2 separate regions of the Homo sapiens genome follow, and region 1 is linked to region 2. Evidence: fine-mapped QTL for protein levels in blood plasma. Region 2 holds a variant in brackets. A gene starts in the other region. All regions are shown on their reverse strands.

Region 1 (8,316 bases), not on the chromosome of region 2:
CCCAGGAGAAGCTACAAGTCCAAAAGCAATGCCTCAGCATCCTTCCTGACCCTTGCATCCCAGCATCCCTGACTTCTGACCCTGGACCCCTGAACCCTAGCCTCCCTGGGACCCGTTTCTCGGAACATCCCCAGCTAAAGGATACCCCAGTAAGCAAACAGATCTAGATGAAGCCACTTTGAGGAAGGAGACCGTAGATCAGGCACACCCCACAGCTGTGCATGATGTTCAGTCTCTTTCTGTGCCCACAGCTTGTTGCCTCTGTGAGGAGGTATAAGCACTCCCCTTCCCCGCTTCCATGACCCTTTCCAGTGACCATTCAGTGGACACCTTCCTGCCCTCCCCCTACAGTCCCAGTCAATTGTCACCTCCTTCCTCACCAGAAGGGCAGGTCCTCCCCTCACCACCATGTGCCCCCTCCCCAACCACCCGTGCCTCAGTAAGGCCTTGACTTCCTTCTGCAGCCATGAGACCAGGAAGGGCAGGGTGGCAGGATGAGTCCAGAGGTCAGGGCCCAAGGCCTGGCCTTTCTGGCTTGCCCCCGAGACTCTGGATGGCGCAGACAGAATATGAGCTTTGGGGTCAGGCTGTGACCACTTCTGGGATCTGGCACTTCTTGTGTGACCCTGAGCAAGTGACCTAACCCTGCTGAGCCTCCACTTCCACAGCTGGACAACCCAGCTCCCAGGCTTGTGGGGACACCTAGGTGGCCATAAACTATTGTGTCTGGTACCAGGCAGGCACTCACTGGCTGCTTCTGTAAGAAGGGTGGCAAGGGAAGGGGCGGAATTGCCATTCACTCACTCAATCCTGGGGGCTGGGTTTGCTGAGCTTTTGCCTTGGGCTGCAGGCGTGTTGTAGCCAGAGGCTGGAAGGTGGGAGAAGGGGAGGGAGGACAGCAGGGTCCTAGAGGAAAGGGAAAGGCTGCTCTCAGGGGTGGCACCGCTCTGAACCCCTTTTCCTTCCTTGGGAGCAGCTGGCAGTTTTCCTACCCCCCACCTCAGCACAGAGCACTGCCATCTTTCGCCTCGGCCAACCAGGAGCCACGTGGCGGGTTCCAGCAGATCCCTGGTCTTCTACTCCTGCAGCCCCCTGGCCTCGCGCCTAGCTCAGAGCCTCAAACCCACCTGCCTCTCAGCCTGCTTCTTCCCTGCCACCCTTCACACTACTCCAGTTTTGTCTCAAAAGTCTGTGTTGGATCCCATCCCTCTCTGCCTTAGAACAGTCACTGGCTCTCCATTGCCTAAAAGCCAAAGTTCAAACTTTTTAGTATGCCTTTCGAGGCCTCTTAAACTCAGGCTTCAGGCCGGGTGTGGTGGCTCACACTTGTAATCTCAGCATTTTGGGAGGCCAAGGCTGGTGGATCACGTGAGGTCAGGAGTTCGAGACCAGCCTGGCCAACACGGTGAAACCCCCTCTCTACTAAAAATACAAAATTAGCTGGGTATGGTGGAGCATGCCTGTAATCCCAGCTACTTGGGAGGCTGAGGCAGGAGAATTGCTTGAACCCGGGAGGGAGAGGTTGCGGTGATTGCAGTGAGCCAAGATTGCGCCACTGCACTCCAGCCTGGGCAACAACAGCAAAACTTCGTCTCTAAAAAAAAAAAAAAGCAAAGAACAAAACTCAGGCTTTGAGGCTTTGAACCACCTTGTCAGCTTCGCCTCTTTCTCTGTTCGGTGCTCCAGCCATAGAGTCATCCTCTATTCCCGACTAAACCAGCCTCCTGCCCACCTCCGTGCCTTGGACATGCTGTTCCTCTGTGTGCGATGCCTTTCCTTTCCATCTCTGCCTAAAGCACTTCTTTCTGTCCTTCAGCACAAGCTCAAGGTCAACTCCTCTGTAATGTCTTCCCTGGAAGCAGCGAATCTCTTTTTCCTCTGTGCACTCACAGTCCCCTGTGCGTGCCTCCAGTGGCGCTAATGCTCACTTACACTGCAATTTCTTGTGTACTGGGTCTCCCTGCTAGGCTGAGACTCCTTAAAGGCAAGATGCCTATCCTCTTGGGAGGCCAAGGCAGGCAGCTCACAAGGTCAGGAGATCGAGACCATCCTGGCTAACACGTGAAACCCTGTCTCTACTAAAAATACAAAAAATTAGCCGAGATCGCGCCACTGCACTCCAGCCTGGGCGACAGAGCGAGACTCCGTCTCAAAAAAAAAAAAAAAAAAAAAAAAAATTCCTGTCCTCTGTGCCCAGCACAGTGGGCAGAAGCCTGATGCAACCAACTCCCCAGGAGCTACTCCGGTCCCCACTTCCCCAAGTCCATCTGTCACTTCCCCAGTCCTTGCTGACTGTGTGCCATCCTGGACTCTCCCTCTTTCTCCACCACTTTCTCTTCTACAGATTGAGTATCCCCTATCCAAAAATGCTTGGGAACAGAAGTGTTTCAGATTTCAGAATATTTGCATTATATCTGCCGATTCAGCATCCCTAATCCAGGAATCTGAAATCCAAAATGCCCCAGTGAGCATTTCCTTTGTGTGTGTGATGCTGGCACACAAAAAGTTTCGGACTTTGGAGTATTTTGCATTTTTGGATTAGGGATACTCAATCTGTAACACTAGGTCAGTTTATTCTTGGATTTTTCTAAGTAGATGATCAAATCTTTTGCAAATACAGAGTATTTATCTTTTCCTTTCCAACATTTATACTTCTTCTTCTTTTTTTTTTTTTTTTTTTTTTTGAGACTGAGTCTGGCTCTGTTGACCAGGCTGGAGTGCAGTGGCACGATCTTGGCTCACTGCAACCTCCGCCTCCCGGGTTGAAGCAATTCTCTGCCTCAGCCTCCTGAGTAGCTGGGATTACAGGCACCTGCCACTATGCCCGGCTAATTTTTATATTTTTAGTAGAGACGGGGTTTCACCATTTTGGCCAGGCTGGTCTTGAACTCCTGACCTCGTGATCCACCCGCCTTGACCTCCCAAAGTGCTGGGATTACAGGCGTGAGCCACCATGCCGGGACTTATACTTCTTAATCTTGCATATTTCATTGCCTAGGGCCTTCAGGCAAAGATGAATAAAAGAAAATGATAGTAGGCTGGCTGGGCACAGTGGCTTCTGCCAGTAATCTCAGCACTTTGAGAGGCTGAGGCAGGCAGATGGCTTGAGTCCAGAAGTTTGAGACCAGACAGGCCAATATGGCGAAACCACATCTTAAAAAAAAAACAAAAAACCAAAATGTAGCCAGGCATAGTGACTTGTGCCTGTGGTCCCAGCTACTCTGGAGGCTGAGGTAGGAGGATTACTTGAGCCTGGGAGGCAGAGGTTGTAATGAGCCAAGATTGTGTCACTGCACTCCCGTCTGGATGACAGAGTGAGACCCCATCTCAGAAAAATGAATGAATGAATGAATGAATGAATGAATAAAAATAAATAAATAAAAAGAAAAGAAATGATAGTGGCTACATTTGTCTTTTTCTGACTTTCTTAGAAATTCTTCTCATGGTTCACCATACTCAATGGTGTGCTGGAGATGGCTCGCACTGACTCACAAGAGCTCACTGTTAACTTTTCAGGAGTTGGTGAGATCGTGTTAAACTGTCGATGGCTGGAAATTGGCCATGGGAATTGGACCACAGAAATGGACACCACAGAAATTGGAAAACACCACAAAATGACAGCATCCCCAGCCTGTTAAACATTTACCAGCACATCACTGTCGTCAGTCTTCTTCATTTTCAACATCCCAACTGCCATCAGAGAGAGGCCAATAGAGTCCGATATAGGACGATAATATAGCAATACACATGTCATACACAAATAAAGAATTACAAATGAGGGTAAACCTAAAACACAAGCGAACTTGATCATAACTGGTAGAAATGACATGTGAACACTGATAAGAATTGGAAGAGATAAGAGAATCTTGTAAATAATGAAGAACAGATTCAATGTGGTTCGATGCTGCTGCTATTTGGCAAGTTTAACTTTATTTCCTCAAATTAAAGATCCATGGATAAAGGAATAAAAAAAAAATAGGGGCTATGGTGGTAGGGATGGGCCTGGGATTGGGATAGGTCCCAGCTATGGGGCTAGGAGAGGAATAAAGCAGACATCAAAGCTGGAAACGACTTGTGTTTGAATCCCAGTTCCATCACTTCCTGCTGTGAGATCTTGGGCAAATCACTTAGTCTCTTGGAGCCTCAGTCCCTCATCCGTGAAATGGGGATACAAAGATGTACCTCGCCCACACTGGCCAGCAGACCAAGGCTCCCACTCCCCTGGGCCCTCTCTGGCTTCTTTCTCCTTAGCTCAGCAGGTCCACTTGGGGTTCTGGGCTCCCAGAGAGGTGCTTTATCCCCTACCCAGGCCCCATAGCTCCAGCCCCGGCCCCCTAGTGTCCCTGCATTTAACGATCCCTCCTTCAGGCATCCTACCCAGAGGCTGGTTCCCAGGCACTCTAGCACCTGTGGCTGGACTTCAATATCTGGGGAGGTGGAGGCCAGGAGGGGAGAGTTGAGGGCACAAGCAGGGCGAGGCCAGCATGTCCAGGGTGATGCTGTGGGCTGGGTCTGGAATGCAGCAATGGTTGGCCCAGCCTCGGGAGGCCTCAGGAATATCTCTGACACCAGGCGAGGAGTCTTCTTTATCCCCTGATATGTCTATCTTGTACCCAGCCTATGGAAATCTCCCTCCAGCACACCTGGGCAGAAAGGAAAGGCGCCGAGCCCAGCCCTGGACAGATCTGGGTCCGGTCCTGCTCTGACATCTACTACTGGTGTGACCTCGGGCAGCAAGAGTGAGACAATGGCCAAGACTCAGGCGGCTCCTTCTGTGCCCCAAGCCTTGCTCGGTGCTTGACCTGCATGATCTCCCTGAGGACTCAGTGCCCATAATGTTGGTACCAGGATTATGCCCCACCACCCCTCCCTCTTCCCTCTGCAGCTCCTGTCCCCAGCCTGGGGAAGGAGAGATATCTGTTACCTGGAAAGACGAACAGAGAGATCAGTAAAGACTCATCGGGGCCCCGTTTTTCGACCCCACACCAGTACTCCCCAGCGTCTTGCAGGGTGAGGTTCCACAGGGTCACAATGAGCGAGAGCTCCTGGCGGCTGTCACGGATGGACACCCTGCCCTTCATTGTCTCCTGGCCTTCTTCTTCTGCATAGATGGTGCCAGAGCAGCGAGAGAAGAGGATCCCACCCTTCCTGCACCAGTACTTCCGGTGGTCCCTCAGCTCTTCCCTGTAGGTGCACTGCAGGGACACAGTGTCCCCTTCGAACCCGCTGATTTCCTCTGGGCCCTCCAGGGCTTCATAACCTAAAATCAGAGCAGGAGTGGAGGTTGGAAAAACCAGGCTCCATGTACCAAGGTCAAGGCCAGAGCTTCCATTTTAGGAGGAAGAAGGAAGGCTTTTCTCAGTCATCCCTTCTGGGGACAGCCTTGGAAGAGCCATTACTAACCTCCCACGCTGGGGGAACTTGGGGCAGGGCTGTTGCTGTTTCCCTAACCCTGGCCCATTGAGGAATTGGGGTGCAGGGGTGGCGTTCTAGATTCAGATAGAATCTGACAGCCAGATAGCCAGCAGGGTTTCTGAGTGTTTTGTTTTGTTTTGTTTGTTTGTTTGTTTGTTTTTGAGATGGAGTCTCACTTTGCCGCCCAGGCTGGAGTGCAGTGGCCCGATGTCTGCTCACTGAAACTTCTGCCTCCCGGGTTCAGGTGATTCTCCTGCCTCAGCCTCCTGAGTACCTGGGACTACAGCCACGTGCTGCCATGCCCGGCTAATTTTTTGTATTTTTAGTAGAGACGGGGTTTCACCGTGTTAGCCAGGATGGTCTTGATCTCCTGACCTTGTGATCCGTCCGCCTCAGCCTCCCAAAGAGCTTGGATTACAGGCGTGAGCCACCGTGCCTGGTTTTGTTTTGTTTTTAGACAGGATCTCACTCTGTTGCCCAGGCTGGAGGGCAATGGTGCTCATGGCTCACTGTAGCCTTGACCTCTGGGGCTCAAGCGATCCTCCCACCTTAGCCTCCCACTAGCTAGGACTACAAGTGTGCACCACCATGCCTGGCTAATTTTGTTTGTTTGTTTGTTTGTTTGTTTGTAGAGATGGGGTCTCACTATTGCCAACTGAACAACTGACATCAGTTGTAGGATTTATCCTGATTTTAAGTGTTAGAAGGTAAAGAAAAAGAAAGCAAAAGAATTGATGAAACGTGATAATTCTTCATCTTTCAGGGTTGTGGGGAGAGGCATAGCCGAAATTCAACAAATATTTGCTGAGTTTAACAGGGCAACCAGATGGGGTGTCTTGTCCGCCTCCAGGCTTGGCACAGGGTAGAAAAATTAAGATTAGAGAGGCAAAGCAACTCTCACAGCCACATTGCCATGAGGGGAAACCCACAGGTCTGGAGAAAACCTGGCTCTAGGTTCCAGAAACAGCAAGTGCGGCCCCGGCGCCACCCCCACCTCCCCCCACCCCCAGCCCGCCCCGCTCCCCTAGGGCTGAGGAGGCTGAGGATAGGTGGGGTGGGGCTATCAGTCAGTCAAGAGGTCCTTTCCCTGCAGACCACAAGGGTGAGCCCCACATCCCTCCCGAGACCCTCTCCCCATCTCACCTGGGAGCAGCAGGCAACCCCATAGCAGGACCAGAAGCCGCATTCTGGGCGCTGGACACCGTGGGAGCAGACGCTGGGAACTGTGAGCTCCTCTTCAGTCACACGGGTCTTTAACTTTCTCTAGTCGCGTGAAACCAGGCCAAGGAAGCGAGGGGAGGGGCGTGTGGGTCATCCCTCCGCAGGCCCAGCCGGGGAGGCGCCTCTGCCTTCCCTTTTCTGAGCGCCCACGCGTGCCTACCCCAGGGCTCACCTTCCAGGACTGAAAACCCACACCAGAGTTTCTCCTAAACTCGTGCCCCTTCAAGGGGGCCTTAACCTGTGGTCCGTGCGCCCTAAGGGGTCTGTAAGTCGAATTCGCATGGGAAAAAGTTACATATTGACTTTCATCAACTTCTAATATTTAGCTTTTCCTCTTATTCAGAGTGTACTGTTAGCAGTACCTGCAACTTTGTTACCAATTACAATCACAGACACTGGCACATCAAGTTGTGGATATCTCGAAACGTCGTGTATACCCCTCACTGCTTGGAAAACAATGAGTTCCTAGACCTGCCCCTAGAGCTGGTTATTTACAATAATGAAACGGCTATTATTATATTACACATTTATAAAGAGTTTTAAGAATCATCTCACCAGTATTAGTTTTCTTTCCAGCATATATATTTTATTTATATATTTACCCGCCATTATACTGAGAGAGGGGTCCATAAACTTCACCAGACTGCCATGTGGTCAGTGGGACAGAAAGAAGCTTGCCCCTGGGGCAAGGCCCCTGGCCCCTCCTCCGCCCTTGCCTTTTGGAGGACGCAGTACTGCCCTTGGCCACGGGGCGGCGGTGCAGACGGGGCTGAGCAAAGCTGTAGGGCTGAGCTGGACCGGATTCCCTGGTGCCTTGGGCCTACAGCGCTGCAAGATAGGTCTCCTCCACGCCTGCGGAGTTGTTTTGGCATTTGAAAAAGTGAATTGGTGGTTTCTCCATCGCAGACTTGAATCCTCCTTGAAAGGACCAAAACAAACATGTACACTACTGGGAGCTCTGACACACTGGCTTCAAAAATGACTTTTTTTTTGGTTTGGTTGCAAAGTTCATACAGGTTGTAAGCAAAATTTTACACAATACAGAACGTAAAAAGGAAAGAAAGAAAAAAGGGAGTGCTTCTTGTAATTCCCCTTCTGCTTTAGAAAAGCACCATTAATATTTTGGCATATATCCTTCCAAATGTTCAGTTGGAATTTTACTGACTTGTCAGGTTAATATCTGAAGCATTAACTCAGTGGTTCTGGGAGGGAAGATTGTGTGTGTGTGAGTCTAGTAACGTGGGGAGAAGTGTTTTAATTTCACAATGACTGCGAAGCACTGCTGCCATTTAGTGGGCAGGGCCAGCTGTTCACGGTGGGGAAAACTGTTACCATGATCTCAGCCCCTGACTCTCTTTTACATGTACAGACTACAAAAGGTGATCTGTTTTTGCAGTTTTAAAAAAACACAGATTAAAAAATATTTATGGCCCAGCATGGTGGCTCACGCCTGTCATCCCAGCACTTTGGGAGGCTGAGGCGGGTGGATCACCTGAAGTCGGGAGTTTGAGACCAGCCTGACCAACATGGAGAAACCCAGTCTCTACTAAAAATATAAAATTAGCCAGGCATGGTGGTGTATGCCTGTAATCCCAGCTACTCAGGGAGGCTGAGGCAGGAGAATCGCTTGAACCCAGAAGGTGGAGGTTGTGGTGAGCTGAGATCACACCATTGCACTCC
Region 2 (8,326 bases):
ACTTGGCCCAAGCTTCAGTTTCCCAATCCAGTATTATTACCGTGAGGCAGAACCAGGCCGGAGGCAGCTGGGCAGACTGGACACCACCAGGCTGTGGATCCCAGAATCTTCTTCTCTTATTGGAGTGGCCCAGGGAACCAGACTAGCTCCTGAGAGCTCTCAGCTGGGAGGGCCCTGGGCTCTGGGTAGAGAGGGGCATGAGCTCAGCAGAGGCAGGGCAGGAAGACTACTCAAGAGAGCAAGGAAGAACCCCAGACAGGAGGTTGTAAGTGGGCCTGTCATCTCCGTGACGTGGAGAAGTAGCAGAGACCACGTCCGGGTCTCCAGTTGCCACCGTCACCCTTCTGTCACAGCTTCCAGTACTGACTTCCTTACTTTTTTGTTTTACCACAACCCCCCTGAAAAATATATCCTACCTCATGACCCAGAACGCATGTACACACACACACACACACACACTCCACACAAGTTTCAAGAAACAATACTTACCCTTACTCTATGCAAGACTAAATATTTTCTGCCCTATTCTCTTCCTATTTAAGAAAAAGAATCATGCTGGTTGCATGCTGTTAAATCGACTTCATGACCCACATAGATCACAATGTGCATTTTGGAAACCCTACCCCAAGGTCAGCAAGCTAGATATAGTGCCATTGTACAGGTAGGGACACTGAGGCCCAGAGAACAACCAAGAGCTGCCTGAGGTCACAGGGCTGGTTGGTGACAGAGCCCCAGCCAGAGCTCTGGGGTCTTGGCTCCCAGAGAATTGTTTCCACTGGAAGTTTCCAGAGCCTGAGGGACTCGGAGATAGCTGCCTGCAGAATGAGGACTGGGGAAGAGAATTCCCACCGGCAGGTCATCAGGGAGGAGGAGACGGATGTTTACTGAGGCTCTCTCAGAGCTTCTGCAGGTAGCAGCAGTGAAGGCTATGCTAAGCCTGTGGAAAAGGTCAGCCTTGAGGGTCAGCGCCAGGTCCTCCAGAGCACGATGAAAAGGAGAAAGGGGAGTGGCCTGGCTACAAGGTCACATGGACTCAATCCAAAGGAGGCTCCCAGTCTGATGGGGGAGACACTGCCTGTGCCCTCAGAGAGCTCCTAATTTGTTTCAGATCTCTGCTGCAGGCAGAAAGTGAGGACAAATCCAGAACGAGGGCCCACACACAATGTCTACACTGGATACCTCAGCAGCAAAGCAGTGAGAAGGCTGGGGAGGAGGAAGGGGAGCAGCAAAGCAACTGAGAACTCGCAAGAGGGAGGTCCAGCCACTCCATCCAGGCAGGGTTGCCAGACAAAGTACGGGATGCCCAGTTAAATTTGAATTTCACACAAACAATGAAAATTTAATGGGGCACCTCGTGTTTTTATTTGCTGCATCTGACAACTTACTTCTAGGATCTTCCCTCCTCAGACCCAGAAGGCCAGCTGACCAGAGAGGCCTGAGGCCCATGCAGGACTAACAGACAGCAGGAGAAACTGAGGAAGAGCTTCATGTCCAGGTACCTGGTATTGACCCAGGGTGAGGGTGAGACAGAGATGAGGGGCTCTGGGACCCCCCATCCCCTAGAAGGTAGTCCTCAGATCATGGATACCTCCTTCCCACCTTCAGAGAGGGAGAGAGGATGGTCTGGGATGCAAGAGATAGCCTTTGGAGTGGACATGTAATGGTGGGCGAGGGAAGAAATGGCTTCCTTTGCCCCCTCCCAGCAGCCACCCATTCAAGATAAGCAAGACTCCAGGGACACTTCCTGTGAAGCAAACGCCAACGGCCGGCACACCACTGGCATCTGGGGGCCGGGGTGGGAGAGAGGCAGTTTCTCCGAAGTCATGGGGCCTGGAGGAGGGTTTTACCAGCATCGAGCTGAGCCCTTCCCCTCACCCCCATGTCTCTTCTGCCCCCTTTCCCCACTGCGTGCCCTCCACCCACCACCAGCACCACCATTTGGGTTTTTACTATGGCTGCCAGAGACTTAGGCAGTGTCAAGGGTGTGGCTGGGGTCACCACAGTCACAAGGAAAGGGGATGAGCCCCGCTGGCCTCAACAAGAAGGCATTCCCTGGGCTCCCATAATCTTTGCCAGCAAAATGTACCCTTCCCCAGTCCCCAGAATGGGGGGTAAGCACTAGGACTTGGGGAGTGGGGCACAGAGCAATGCTGGGGATGCAGCCAGGAGCCGAGCCTGGGGCCACATCCTGGGAAGGGATTAATTGTAGGCCTGAGACTCTGTGCCCAGGGCTTAGGGCCCTGTGCCCTGCCTGCACCTCATTACGAGAAGGAAAGGAAAAGTTGTTTCCATTTTTCCTTGTGGGTTTCTGCACTGGCTGTTGCCACACCAAGAGAATGAACCATCCCCAAAAAGGCTCGGCATTTTAGATGGTTCATCTAAAGGGATCCGTAGATCCCTTTCTCCCCAAGGGAGAAGGCCCAAGGTCATACCCTCACCATCAGGGAGCACACGGGCTAATCAGAGAGAATTTGTCCCTGCTCTTGGGGACCCTGACAGGGTGAGGTGACTAATGTTCATTTATTCATTCATTCTACAAGTACCATATTTATTGAGCCCCTTAAGAGGGGACTGGGGGTGGGTTTTACCAGCATCCAGCTGAACTCTTCCCCTCACTCCAGGTCTCTTCTTCCCTCCTTCCCTTTTAAGTGGCAATCACTGTGTGTTCATTGTCTAATATAATCCACATCAACACCTGGGAGGTAGGTGTTGCCATGTCCATTTTACAGAGCAAGACAATGAGCCCCAGAGAGATCCAGCAACTTGCCCAAGGTCACAGAGCTAGAAAACTCTACTGATGTCAAAAGTAGAGCTCAGCTCTGTCCGATTTCAAATCCTCTCTTCCTACATCCTTGTGCCAAATCACGACGACAATAGCTAACCTTTATCGGGCCCTTATTGCATGCCAGTCATCCTCCTATAACCATCTGCATTTCCCTGAGCACCAGCACTCTCAGCTCTAGTATGGGGACACTACTGCCAATGTCTGGTGTGGGGAGGATGACATGATCATATGTACACGAAACACTGTGAAATAGATATCATGGTGCCTGTTTCAGAGATGGCAAGTGAGATGCAGAAAGGTAATTGTCCTAAACATAGCTGAGAAGCTGTCGGAGCTGGGGCTGTGTTTGGGGTTTGGGTTTTGGACCTCGGGGCTCAGAAATTGCAGCCAGGATTTGAACCCAGGCAGTCAGGCTGGGCCAGGCCAGAAGTGACCCAGTGTTATCAATTCTGGGCTGCCACACAGAAGACTATTAATAGCCATGAGGTGTTTATTGCTGAACAGTCAGCAGTTCCCAGAGGGCAGCTCTGGGTCATGGGACCGCAGCCAGGTCAGCCCCCAACCCCCAGCCCCATGGGGGCTCGTCCCGAGATGCTGGCTCCCCCAGCTGGGCCTCACCCAGCCCCTAGGAACCCTTACCCAACCAGGCGGCTGCCCCGTGACTGGCAATAGTGACCCCTGTCACACTTGTGTGTGTGCGAGCCCGTGTGGATGTACCCGTGTGAAAGAAGATCTATAGTAGGAGTCTCGCTCCAGAAGCGAGGACGCCTCAGGAGGGCATCTGCTGGGGCCAGACCTTCCCCACCAGTCCCAGCCTCAGGGGCCCAGCAAGCCCTGCCATCCTCTCTCTATCTCAGGCTGGCCAGGAGAGCAGCTGGGAGGGAACCCTGGGGAGTGAAGTAGGGGAGACCTGGGGTGGGGGTGGAGATGCCTTTGGGAGCCAAAAGCAAACACCCTCCCTGAATATTTCCCCAGAAGACATCCTCTTGTGGCCTCCCCAGGAGATGGCAGCTCCCAGCTCTCCAAAGTCCCAGGGAAGGGCTTCTCCCCTGCCTGGGTCCCAGAGGCCCTTCCATACCTATACCACAAATCATTTCACCTAAACATCCTGGAACAGACAGGTTTCCACCTTGAGGGAGCTTCTGAAGACAGCCCTGGGGGCATCCGTCCACTGCAGCCTGGCCCAAGCAGCCCTGCCCAGCCTCAGCATTTCTTGCCCAGAGCACAGCTGTGTGTATAAGGGTGGACATCCGGCCTCCTCCATCAGACTGGAGGTTCCCAGTGTGTTTGGGGGACCTAAGAGAAGATTGGCCATGCATTCTGCTCCTGTTCATTTGTTCATTAATTCTACAAATACTCATGCAAGCCCACCTTGTACCTGGTCCTGGGTTCAAAGCCACAGGGCATCATCCCTACCAGGAAGGGCTCTCCACACCCTCTTTTCCCTTCAGTCCAATCCCTTTCTCTCACTGCTGGGCTCCAGGGCTGAACCTGCCCTGGCGTGCCTCACTCCTCAGCAGGAGAGTAAGGATGCATGCTTGCAAAAATGGTTATAAAATCCAGCCAGACCATTTCAGGTTTTTTTAAAAAGTGGGAAAAAAGCCCCACAAACAACCAAAATGTACTAAAGGGGGCACTCAGAGAGGAAAAAGCATTGGCATGGAGACTAGAATAACAACAAGATGATAATGACTTTTTTTTTTAGGACATCCTATGTACCAGTCACTTCATGAGGTACTTTTACATGTCAATGTCACTTCAGGCCCTCAAACTCCATCATGTAGGTGTTACTGTGCCCATTTTAGATGAGAAAGTTGAGGTGCAGGCAAGTAATTTCTCCAGTGGCAGACCCAGGATTCCAATCTAGATCTGTCAGAAGTCTTGATGGGACTTAGGGCGGCCCAGATTAGGCTCTGCAGAGGCATCCAAAGAGAGGTCCCTATGGCCGGGCCTCACAGGGCATCACCTCCTCAGAAGCTTCCAGCCCCAGGACAGCTGGATGAGCTACAGACAGG[G/C]AGTAGGGGAACAGTCTTCCTGCAGGAAGTCTGAGGAGCTGATGAACAGGGTTCTCAGGCCTCTCCAGGAGAGGAGACAGGAGAAGCCCAGGAAAGGGACATGTGCTAGCATCTGCTCCACTTGGAGCCAGACCCAGGGACCGTCAGGGGATGTGTGGAGAAAATCAGGGCCCAGGCTGGTGAGCCACGCATGGCTGATGACAAACACAAGAGAAGCCCTGTGAGCATTGTGAATGCGCACCGAGAGTGGAGGGAAGGATGGGGTACCAGCATCCGGTGACTCCGAACAGTGCAACAGCCAAATGGTGGCAGGGTGGTGCCTTCCCGAAACTAGTATCCAAAGAAATGTCTGATGGCAGAAGCTCTGTCTCCTCCCTCAGATTAGATACTCTGTAAGGACCGGGAGCATCCTGAGGGCCAGGGCCATGTCAATCCTCCTTGAGACTGGGAGCTCCCTGGGAGCAGTACTTGCACTTCCCTCATAGAGAGACTAACTCCCCAAAGGCAAACGCAGCCTTTGAAAATCTTTGTCAGATCCCGGCCCCCTCTTGTCCTGGGAGACTCAAGCCCAGCCTTGCACCATAGGCACCTGTGCCTAGTGGGCCCTTTCCTCTGACTCACTGCTCCCTGGGTTCTAGCTCTTCCCCTTCCACGTCACCCCTTCTGTTCCTTCTCAGCAGATGCTCAGTCAAGCCCTGTCTTTGCCTTGCATTTTCCTTTTCTAGGCAGATTATAAATATTTACTGATTCCTTCCCTGCCCTCCCCTAGTCCCATGTCCTAATGGACAATGTCCTGCGGATGTAGCTGAATTATCTCTCTCCCAGCAACTCTGAAGCCAACCTGATGGAGCCTTCCAAGGGTCAGCCCATCCATCCCCCACCTCTAGGCTGGCTCATGCTAAAGCCCCTCCTAGTAAATGAGAGACCATCCCTGCACCAGGGCATAGTACATATGGCTGGTATTCCATAAACGCTGGAGGATGGAAGGAAGAAGGGAAGAAAAGGATTCCACAGTCTTTTCCTCCAAATCCCTCATGCTGTGCTCTCTGGCAGTTCTTCTCATCCTCTATCCTCTATCCCCCATGCTGTAGGTGAGGCCCACTTTCTCTTGGTAAGACTCCAGTACAACCAAGTCACTCTCCTCACTCTAGAAATTAGGACAATATTTTGTCCTGCCTGGGTCAGCCCTTACCCTGACTTCTCACCAAACTTACCACCATGGCAGATGCCTGGTCTCTGATTCCCTTATAAACACACCCTTCTTTCCTTGAACATCCCTCCATCCACTTCATGAATACCAGTTAAACCTTATGGATGGGAAGGGACAAACACCCTAATGCCAAGGAAATGACTGTTTTGTTAGATGGCTCAGTTATTATTGAGGAATAATAACCACCCCAAAACTTAGTAGCTTTAAACAACACAGTGCATACATTTGCTTACAACTCACTAAACTGGGGCAGGGATGGCTTCTCTCTACTTTATGTGTTGTTGGCTAGAGTGGCTCACCTGGCGCTAGGGAATCCAAAGTGACTTCACTCACATGTCTGGTGCCTCAGCTTCAGGTGGTTGGAACAGCTGGGAGTTGGCTGAGCCTCTCTCTCTCTCTCCATCTCTGTCTCTCTCTTCCTCTATCTCTCTGTTTCTCTTCCCCTATCTCTCTCTGTCTCTCCACAGTCTCTCTCTCCAGTAGAGTATTTGGACAGTTATAGCCTGGCAGCTGCCTTACAAGAGGACAAAAATTGACACTACAATGCCTAGACCTGAAAGTCCCAGAATATCTCTCTTGTGTTGCATTTTTATTCAAAGCAAGTCATAAAGCCGGCCCAGATTCAAAAAGAGGAAAAATAGACTCTACTTCTTGGGGGGCAAAGCACGTGGGCACAGGGATGGAAAGAACTGTTGACAGCCATGTTTGCACACTGGCCACCACAATGATCCTAACACACGAAATTGATCCAGAATCACCAAGTTTTGTATGGATCCACCCGTCAGCCTTTCAGTTCTTGTGGGAGGGAGGAGAGTGGGCCAGCAGGCTCTCTAAAGGCCTTTCAGGGCCGGGAGCAGGATGGGCAGCTCCTTGGAGAAGGGAGAGTCTCAGGCTAGACAGAGGAGAAGGAGCACTGGGTAGCTCCAGAGGAAACAGTGGCTAGACCAGGCGGTGTGAGTCCCACAGAGAGGAGATGATCTGGGAAGGCAGGGTAGGCCCTGGGACTTGCTTAGGTCTGGAGAGATCCTTGGGAATGGCTCCAGGGGGGTATCTGGGCAGGTCTTATACAACTGGGGGAGGTGGCATTTTCATGTTCTCCTTCTTTTCTCCGTGGTCTGTTTCAAGGCTGTTTCTCTCATCTAAGGCCGTGTGTTGCAATCTCTTGCATGCTTAGGTTTCCGATCTTCCACTGACGAGCCCCAGCCCCTGGAGACATCTCTTGCTTGCCTTGCCTTGCCTTACCACACTTGGGGAAGTCTGGATTTCAGCCCTGGGTTTGGCCAGCACTACATCCTCCCCCTGTCCCACTTTTCTTCTTCCCTGTTTGTATTGAGTCTAGACGATTCATTTTTATTTGTTGATGTCCTGCCCTAGCCTGAGGCAGCTGTGGTGTGGTAAAAAGAGCACTAGATTTGGAGTCAGAAAAGCTGGTTTAAATTCTGGCTTGGCCATTTACTGGCTGCGTGTAAATTCGGGCAAGTTATTTACCTTCTCTGAGCCTCCTGCTTCTCATCTGCCAAGCAATAATAATGAGCCCCATCCCCAGGGTGGCTAAGAGGAGACGGTACTGGCACTGACAAAGAGGCCTCTGCTGTAATCCCTACCAGCTGACTTTGAGTTCACTTCTTCTAGACAATCCCCACTTAAGTCCCCACCTGTCCAGCTAACCCTCACCAACAACTCCTGGCACCTCTGTAGAAATCCTGTACTCACCTCCGTAGTCTTGGGATGAAACCTTCAGGTCCAGGCCTCAGTTTCAACAATGTCAGTCATTTAACAAATGTTTATTGAGCATGTACTGTGTTCCAGGAGCTGGAGATACATTGAACAAAACAGACAAAAATCTCTTCCTTCATGGAGCTTGCATTCTAGTTGGGGGAGACAAACAAAGGGGGGAGTACATTTTAAAGCTATTCTGTCTGAAATGGTAGCCACTAGCCATGTGTATATTAAGCACTCGAAACGTGGCTACAACTAATTGAGACATGCGATAAATATAAAACACCCACCAGATTCAAAGATTTATTTTTTCTTTACACCCAATTTCTGCCCTTGGACAGACGCAAAGACTTAGTACCAAAAGAGTATACAATTTCTCATTAATAGGCTGGGCGCAGTGGCTCATGCCTGTAATCCCAGCACTTTGGGAGGCCGAGGCAGGTGGATCATCTTAGGTCAGGAGTTCAAGACCAGCCTGACCAATATGGTGAAACCCCCATTTCTACTAAAAATACAAAAATTAGCCAGACGTGTTTGTGTGCGCCCATAGTCCCAGCTACTCGGAAGGTTCAGGCAGGAGAATCACTTGAACCCAGG

Alleles and levels. Positions count from the first base shown, and alleles are read on the strand shown. Strength reflects both the effect of a copy and how common the allele is.
In carriers of allele C in region 2, the plasma level of the protein whose gene starts at base 6,642 in region 1 tends to be lower than with G alone (moderate association).

The links. A credible set is the group of variants that fine-mapping cannot tell apart. PIP is the chance, under the fine-mapping model, that this variant and not a neighbour inherited with it causes the effect. The UK Biobank Pharma Proteomics Project read protein levels with antibody pairs (Olink). The fine-mapping took linkage between variants from a reference panel, not from the people measured, so its PIPs are less certain.
Region 1: CD300LG starts here. The variant in region 2 is the best candidate, but not a certain one, in a credible set for the plasma level of the CD300LG protein (UK Biobank, PIP 0.55).

The regions. Positions count from the first base shown.
Region 1 is chr17:43,845,502-43,853,817 of GRCh38, reverse strand. It overlaps CD300LG (CD300 molecule like family member g), which reads right to left and starts at 6,642. Exons shown (of 7, transcript NM_145273.4): 1 at 6,559-6,642; 2 at 4,925-5,260; 3 at 805-906; 4 at 1-11. The coding sequence starts at 6,601. It overlaps LOC107984979 (a long non-coding RNA gene), which reads right to left. Exons shown (of 3, transcript XR_001753057.2): 3 at 7,343-7,554. It overlaps LOC107985077 (a long non-coding RNA gene), which reads left to right. Exons shown (of 2, transcript XR_001752896.2): 2 at 3,517-4,068.
Region 2 is chr6:43,789,065-43,797,390 of GRCh38, reverse strand. LOC105375070 (a long non-coding RNA gene) reads right to left here and starts at 232. Exons shown (of 3, transcript XR_007059588.1): 1 at 41-232. The variant G/C (reference allele first, on the strand shown) is at 4,801.